Linked DNA regions of Homo sapiens: all the other regions are linked to region 1. The links come from fine-mapping of genetic effects on gene expression. A gene starts in region 1. Each other region holds a variant in brackets. All regions are shown on one strand. Distances are between the middles of the regions. Region 1 holds the start of EXT2 (exostosin glycosyltransferase 2). Region 2 overlaps ACCS (1-aminocyclopropane-1-carboxylate synthase homolog (inactive)). Region 3 has its middle 52 kb from the start of ALX4.

Evidence for each region.
Region 2: its variant is fine-mapped to the expression of EXT2 in whole blood (TOPMed, PIP above 0.99).
Region 3: its variant is fine-mapped to the expression of EXT2 in spleen (GTEx, PIP 0.95).

Annotation. Positions count from the first base shown.
Region 1 is chr11:44,094,312-44,097,069 of GRCh38, forward strand. EXT2 (exostosin glycosyltransferase 2) reads left to right here and starts at 1,367. Exons shown (of 14, transcript NM_207122.2): 1 at 1,367-1,541. RefSeq lists a silencer at 1,234-1,853 and an enhancer at 2,274-2,323.
Region 2 is chr11:44,071,329-44,074,086 of GRCh38, forward strand. ACCS (1-aminocyclopropane-1-carboxylate synthase homolog (inactive)) reads left to right here. Exons shown (of 15, transcript NM_032592.4): 4 at 2,119-2,189. Among named protein-coding and RNA genes, the nearest start is that of ACCS, 6.4 kb to the left of the region's middle. The variant C/T (reference allele first, on the strand shown) is at 1,538.
Region 3 is chr11:44,257,210-44,259,967 of GRCh38, forward strand. No RefSeq gene overlaps it. Among named protein-coding and RNA genes, the nearest start is that of ALX4, 52 kb to the right of the region's middle. The variant A/T (reference allele first, on the strand shown) is at 1,464.

The DNA of each region.
Region 1 (2,758 bases):
AATCTCCCTAGATCTGTGACAAGCAGGCATTAACTCACAAAAATATCCCTGGAATCGAGGTTGCTGCCGGAAGCCTCTGTAGGTATCTAGTCTCAGAATCATCACTTTGAATATTTAAGCTATCAGTGACAACTTCCACCAGATGGCGCCAAAGTACATCTGGGACCAGAAGGGATTTGGATCCTGTAGCCAGACCCACAACTCTACCAAACCAACATCGCAGGCCCAGGGGTCATTTCATTAACCTCTCAATAACATCGCTCTGAATTTTAATTTAATTTTTTAGTTTCCACTTACTGCTTTATGACAGCGGTTTTAGTGTGCATGGATAGGGCTAAATCATGTAAATAATAGAGAAAGATACAAAACAAAAATGCGTTTTTTTTTTTTTTTTTTGGAGACAGGGTCTTGCTCTATCACCCAGGCTGGAGTGCAGTGGCACGACCACGGCCCACTGCAGCCTTGACCTCCTGGGCTCAAGCAATCTTCCTGCCTCTGCCTCCTAAGTAGTTGGGACTACAAGCGTGTGCTACGATGCCTAGTTAACTTTTTATTTTTTGTAGAGATGGGGTCTTGCTCTGCTGCCCAGGCTGGTCTCAAACTCTTGGGCTCAAGCGATCCTCTCGTTTAGGCCTCCCCAAATGCTGGAATTACAGGCGTGAGCCACCTTTCCTCGCCATAAATGCTTCCATTTCCGCCTCGACAACTACTCCACCTGAAGCTGTTCATTTCTTCTTGCATTCCTTCCAGAAAAAAGTTATACACATGCCTGAATATAAGCACCTACTTTATATATTTCTCCCTCTTGTTTTTGCATATGCATAGTTTACCTAAAAGTGACTTGCCCGCTGTTTTGGACTACGCTTTGATCTTAACTAATATCTTGGAGATATTTCCTTACCCAAATATATTGCACTATCTCACATTACTCAAATCAATCAAATTCCATAATTTATTTCGATTGTGTCTAGCATTTCGCTATGATTAGAAAGAATGCTGTCATGGAACTTTTTGACAAACATTGTTGAGAATATCCATAGGGCAAACTCCGTACAGAGAGCTTGTTGGAATGAAGGGTACCAGCATTTTCCGTTTGATGGATAGTACCAAATTGCCCTCCAGGAATGTTATACGCTCACCAGAACTGATTATAATAAAACGTCTACATATTTGTTAGTTTTATAAGCAACGCGTGGTGTCTCGTTTGGGTTTAAGGATTCTTTAATTATGAATGAGGCTGTCTGAGCATTTCACTGCGGAGCCTGAGCGCGCCTGCCTGGGAAAACACTGCAGCGGTGCTCGGACTCCTCCTGTCCAGCAGGAGGCGCGGCCCGGCAGCTCCCGCATGCGCAGTGCGCTCGGTGTCAGACGGCCCGGATCCCGGTTACCGGCCCCTCGCTCGCTGCTCGCCAGCCCAGACTCGGCCCTGGCAGTGGCGGCTGGCGATTCGGACCGATCCGACCTGGGCGGAGGTGGCCCGCGCCCCGCGGCATGAGCCGGTGACCAAGCTCGGGGCCGAGCGGGAGGCAGCCGTGGCCGAGGTAAGCGCGGCTCTCCAGGGCGGCGGCCGGGCGGGCGCTGAAGCGAGGGCTCGGGCCTCCGGGGGCCGCTGCTGGGTCGGGACAAGGGCCGAGGGAGCGCGGCCGCGCGGAGGCTCCGTGGAGGCCCGTGGGCTGCGAGAGGCCACCCCCAGCCCCGCCGGGGCTGTGACAATGACTGCCCGCTTTTGGAGCGCTCCGATTTCCACTCCTGCTTCTCCTTCTCCTCCGGCGGCGGCCGCGCTTTCAGCATCTTGGTACCCACCTGTTCTCCTAGCCAACCTTCGCCCCCAGTCCGCTCCTTCCTTTCCTCCTGCGACCCGCCCTCCGCCCTCCGCCGTGACCCCTCCCTTCCTGCTGCCACCTTCCCGCCAGCCACAGGGATCTGATTCCTCCCAGGGGGATGTCCTGCGCCTCAGGGTCCGGTGGTGGCCTGCGGCATCCCTTGCGGTGCCAGAAGCCGTGGGACGAGGTAGGGAAGGGGCCAGGGGCATGTTATGCCGGGGACTGGGTGGTCGGGGGCGTGTTAGGCCGGGGACTGGGTGACCGGGAACTAGATGGCCGGGGGCGTGTTAGGCCGGGGACTGGGTGGCCGGGGTCATGTTGGGCCAGGCACTAGGTGGCTGGGGGCGTGTTAGGCAGGGGACTGGGTGGCCGGGGGCCTGTCAGGACGGGGCAGGAGTATGTTAGACTGCGGACTAGATTGCTGGTGGCATGTTAGGCCAGGGACTAGGTGGCCCGGGGGTGTGTCGGGCCGGGGCCAGGGGCATGTTAGTCTCGGGACTAGGTGGCCAGAAGCACACTGGCTCTGGGCTTCAACTTGAAGTCCAGAGGTGTTTGGGGCTTTGTTACATTCGGTGGGAACCAGATCTAAACACACAATTTTGAGAATCAAAGAATTGCTTGGTGTTACTGATTGGGCAATGCTAATCTAGAAAGGTTCTTGACTTATTTATGTGAAGATATGGTCTTGAAATATGTACATTTAAATTCTTGTAAGTCTTAACTTCTTGTAAGTCAGGTAAGTGCTCTATGTACTTTAACTGGACTTAGTTTGTAACTTTCAGAACTCAAAGGCTATTCACTGTAATAAAATAGATGATTCAGTTTCCATCATTCACTTTCCCCGACTTCCTGGTTGCATGTGAGGGTATGAATGGATAATCAGTTTTGGGGCCAGACTGCCATGCTGTGAATCCTAGCTTTGGCATTTCCAGTTG
Region 2 (2,758 bases), 23 kb before region 1:
CCCCTCTAGGGGGCATCACCAGCTCCGAGGAGCTGTCTTCCCTGGAATGCTTTCCCAACAGGAGCCTGCTGCTTGGCTCAGTGGCCCTGGCCTGGGAATCAGGAGACCCGGGTTCCAGGCCTACCTTGGGACAGTTTTCTGTGTGATCTTAGGTGAGTTTCTTCCCCACTGTAGTCCTATTTCTTCATCTCTGTAGACTCTTATTTCACTCAGTCCCTCCTGCTGTGTTGGGTCCCCTGATCTCAGAGGGAAACACTCAGTGCTTTGTGGTGTAGGTATTTAGCAATTAGCTCTTCAGGGGGACAAAAAAAGCCTGATGTGTAGTTTTGCCAATTTCCGTAGTGTAAATACTCCCACCATGGCTGATTTCAAGCTCCTTATGTGATATCACTGCAGGCAGAGTTGGAAGAGAGCTGCATGGGCACACTTATGTAATATTTTCACCATATAGACATGTAGACAGAACTGACCTCAAAAACATAGATAGTAAAAGGTACTAGCAAATCAGGAAGCAGTGACGTTTGAGTGCTTATCACCTTTGTTTGTAAGATAATGTATTTCATTGTCAGTTTATATTAATTTGCTTTTTAAAAGTGGCTGTTTTTAACACAGCTTGCAACATTTCTGAAAATTTTATAATCCGATTTCTTGAGCTGTGGTAAGCCATCTTAGCAACCACTGACAATGCCTAATAAATGTGTCTCCCAAGGCGGCAGTGGCAGAGTTTGGGTTTGTAGAGACAGCAATCCTTAACCCAAAGGAACATATTTCCAAAGGGAGAAATCTCAACCCCAAGGGGAAGGGGTTATAGGGAATAGATTTTATTTATTTATTTATTTATTTATTTAAGATGGAGTCTTACTCTGTTGCCCAGGCTGGAGTGTAGTGGTGTGATCTCAGCTCACTACAACCCCCTCCTCCCGGGTTCAAGCAATTCTCCTGCCACAGCCTCCTGAGTAGCTGGGATTACAGGCACACACCACCATGCCCGGCTAATTTTTGTATTTTTAGTAGAGACAGGGTTTCACCATTTTGGCCAGGCTGGTCTCGAACTCCTGACCTTGTGATTCGCCCGCCTTGGCCTCCCAAAGTGCTAGGATTACAGGCGTGAGCCACTGCACCCGGCCAGGGAATAGATTTTAAAGGCCTGTTTTACCTAAAGCCAGCTCCTCCTTCTAAGGCAGCTAAGCACTGAAATAAAAGGTGAGCCACATATATCAATTTAAATTTTCTATTAAAAAAAATAAAAAGATGCCAGGTAAAAACTAATTTTAATAATATATTTTATTTAGCCCAATATATTCAAAATATGACCATTTTAGCATGTCATCAGTACAAAAATTATTAATGATATATTTTACATACTTTTTTCCTACCAAGTTTTCAAAATCCAGTGTGTCTTAATTCAGATGAACCACATTTCAAATGTTCATTAGCCACATGTGGCCAGTGGCTACCATGTTGGACAGTGTGGCTCTAAGGGAGGAAGGGAGAGAGGGCAAAGGCTGGACCCAGTTATGTAGAAGTGGCTGATTCC[C/T]TTTCTTCCTTTTGGCCCCAGTGCGTAAGGCCCCTGCATTGGCCCTTCTTTGACAAAGGACCTACAATACTAGGAGTTTCTAACCTAGCACTGGTCATGGAATGGGTGGTCTAGAAACTGCTACTTTTTTTAAAGTGTGAGGTTGAGCTGAGCTTGCAGGAAGACAGTGGCCTAAGTCCCTCTAGAAGTTGGAGCCAAGACTGAGGTTCTAGCTCTCAGTATCTTCTATCACCCCATGGAGATGCTGATCAGTGTGCTCTTCCGTTAATACTTTTGCAAACCCACCCCTCCGATTTTTTTAGGTGGCAGTGTTGTATAAAGAATGCCAGACTAGGAGTCAAAAATTTTGGGTTTTTGTCTCAGCTCTGCCACTTGCTAGCTCTGTGACCTTGGCTGAGTGACCTCACTTTTTTGGACCTCAGTTTCCTCACCTGCAACATGGGTATGAGAAAGCTGTCACTCTCTGCCCCTCTCGCAGTTTCTCTGATGAGCAGAACAAGCGTTCAGCTTTACCTGCCCTGTGCTGTGGATGCTGGTAGCAGTGCTGGCCCTCAGCCGTGCTCTTCCCTCTCTGTCCCCAGCTGAGTCAGCGCGACATGCAGAGGGTGGAGCCATCCCTGCTGCAGTATGCTGACTGGAGGGGACATCTGTTGTAAGTAGTTGCCATAGGGTGAGTTTGTCCCCCTGGGGATGTGTGGCAATGTTGGGAGACATTTTTGGTTGTTATAACTGGGAAGTCAGGTGCTCCTGGCATTTAGTGTGTAGAGGTCAGGGATGCTGCCTAAAGTTCTACAATGTACAGGACAGCCCCCACAATGAAGAATGACCTGGCCCCGAACATCAGTAGTGGCAGGCTGAGGGCCTAGTCCTGGAGACCTGGCGACTATGGGGTCTCCTGCCAGTCCCACCTCAGCACAGGAGCTCGCTAGTCTGGTTTCTGGGAACCTGGGTTTAAAGCATGGGGAGGGCCTTCAGGTGAGAAGTCTTTGTCCTTGCTTTGATGGTAGCTTTAGAGAAGCCAGAATTGCTGTTCGGGGAGCTGGCTGGGGCCTTTTCCTAATGCTAAGAGGGGAGGTGGTAAATAACACTAATAGCTTGTGCTTATTGAACACTTGCTTGTGGACACTGTTCTAAGGGCTCAGCGGCTGAGCAGGACTTGATCCCAAGACTGATTGTAAAGCACGTGTTCTTCTAGTGTAGTAATCAGGGTGGTGGGCCCTG
Region 3 (2,758 bases), 160 kb after region 1:
TCCATACCTATCTTGGAGAAGAGCTATGGTTTGCCTTGTGTTTCATTCTTCCTTAGGCTTTTATCCCCTTCCCCTGTCCTCTCAACACACACACACACACACACATACACACTCTCATTTATTTTCATTCTTTCCCATGGTGTAGCTTGGCCCTACTATCATAGCTACAGGGAGCCCCTTCCTTTCCAGAAGCGCCTGGAAATTACAGAGGTACGCTGTGGGTAGAGGACAGAGAAGGGATGGAGAGGGGGCTTGTGATGCAACCAAAGAGAAATCCCAGGAGGCAAGGCAAGAACACTGTGTCCTCTGCACATCTAAGAACCACATCCTGATTGGGGTTCCGGGCAGATCTCATGCAGGCAGTACAGTGGGTTTTCTCCCAACTAGTTAAGGCAACACCTTAACACATGGTGTACACATGCTCATAAATTGAAGCTCCCTGTGGAGGTTTGCCCTTCCTCAAGCCTGTTGGTCTTTGTTGAGCTTAAAAAAAAATCTGTTTGGAATCACACAGAATTCCTGGGAAAATTTCAACTCTCACACCCCATTGTCTTCTGGCGCTAACTTGCATCTTCTCACTTGTGCACATACACAGTTTGCCGTCAGCCCTATTTTGGGGAACTGGCTATTTGTGGAGAGCCTATTGTTCCTTAGCTGCTGAGCATGCAAGTCTAGACCTGTGGAAGGAGAGGTACCACCACCACTCCACGCCCTGCTCGCCAGATTGAAGATTCTGCTGTCACATGGCCCAGCCAGCTTGTGGAGCCCTGGGGTTGGCTGTGTTGCCTGTAGCAAGACCTGGGACAATGGGATTGGTGATGAGCTGAAGGCAAGAGTGGTTTCTGCTGGGGTTGGCACCAAGGCAGGAAAGGAGCTGTCTTCAGCCAGTCGCTGAAGCTGGAGTTGAGAGTGGAGGGCTTAAGGGCATGAGGATTATCCAGGGATGCTGGAGAAAGTGGGCTTTGAGCCCAGGGACAAGTCGAGAAGCTTCCAGATGTGCACTCTTGGACACAGGACCTCTTGCGCCATCTTGGGGAGCTGGCCTGGTGCTGACCAGTGCTGTCCCAACCCCGGCAACACTAAATAAACAGGCCAGGTTTACTGCCGTGGCCACAGCTCATCTTGAATGCATGTGAACCCTGGAGGAATGGGGTGGATGAGGTTCATGGTCAAGCAGAGGCTCTGACACTCCAGGAAGATCTCTAGTGGGCTGAGTCAGCTTCCAGCTGTCTGTAAAACGAATCCCTGAGTGTCCTCTGACCTCCCTCCTCCCACCCTTAATCAAAACAGAGCATCTCTTTATTCTCACCTTCCCATTCATTCACTCATTCGCACATTACCTAACATTCTTATTCTCTCAGGCATTCGGATGTGAACACAGCCTGTCTCCTCTTTGGGATGTGAGGAAGTCAGATGGATAAATAGATATACGGTATCATGTGCCATCATGGTATTATGACACA[A/T]ACAGTTTTGTGGAGGCCAGAGGGGCAGCCTTTGACCTAGGGGTGGAAGTTGAGGTGAGGGCATGGGCTTAAGAAAGAGCTTCACAGAGGGTGCTATCATTTGGAGGATACACTGCAGAGTGGCTGGGTGCATTGGAGGGGATCTAGGGAGGAGATAGAGGCATTCTAAGAAGAGATAGCAAGTCCAGTGGTGTGGCCAGGTGAAAAGGCCTAGATGGCTTGGGGAACAACAAGCTGTGCTGGGTGGTCAGACCCAGTGAAGGGCTGAGCCGTAGTCCACAGTCAGAGGAGGCCCTGCTGGCCCTGGCCTTGTCGTTGTTCTCCCCAGAGACCACTTGGAGGCACAGGTCCCAGGGGTGGGCTACCTGCATCCCCCGTGATGCCTAAGTCACACATCAGGCCAGTCTTCCTCTTCAGCAGTGGTGCTCATCTGGACTCTGAAGGATTTGGGGGGTGCTCAGCTCCCACAGGAAGAAGCAGGGGTGTGAGGTAGAGACAACACCCCGTGGTTTCGCATGTGGTTTGCACATGGCTTTTCTCCCTCTCTGCTTCAATTCCTGCCCTGTGACTTGGCAGTGATTTGGTGTGGAGTGTCCAAGTGCTACCATGACCCTGAGCCCTAATATAGGACAGGTGTCATTTTTTAAAAAAACAAGCTCCCAGCCCAGGTCAACCTAAAACCCAGTTGGGTCTATACTGAATGTGAATGCACTGACACAGGTATCAAATCTGAGATGTGGTTCCAAGAGAACAATGTCCAAATAGTTGGAAAGAGAGGATAAAATGGAGCTTGTTGTTGTTGTTATTGTTTTATCAGACTCACAGCTGGGAGCTGGAGGGAGATGTCATTCTCTGGGAGTAATCATTGTCCCTTATGTCACTATGCCACATCGGCTTACAAAGCCCATGCATGGACATTGTCCACTTAATCCTCCCCCCTCCATTGGTAAGCTAAGCAGGGACAGGGCTTGTTTCTATCCTTCAGATGTGAGAACTTAGACTCAGCTGGTTTGGTCAACAAAAATGACTCCCTGTCCACACAGTGGTCCCTTGGAGGCTGACTGCCTCTTCCTGAGTCGCCTTCGTGCTGGAAAGCAAGGAAACACCTATACGACAGTAGAACCTGGGTTCCTTCTGCTTCATAATTTGTCTTCAGAGGTTTGCTTTAAAAGTTGTCTGGCCATATGTCCTGGAAGGACAGTTCCCCTGCCCACTCAGTAGCAGAGCCAGAACTGGGACCCGCCTCTCCTGGAGGTCCACCCTGTGCTCCTGGTGTCAAGCAGCCTGGACCTCTG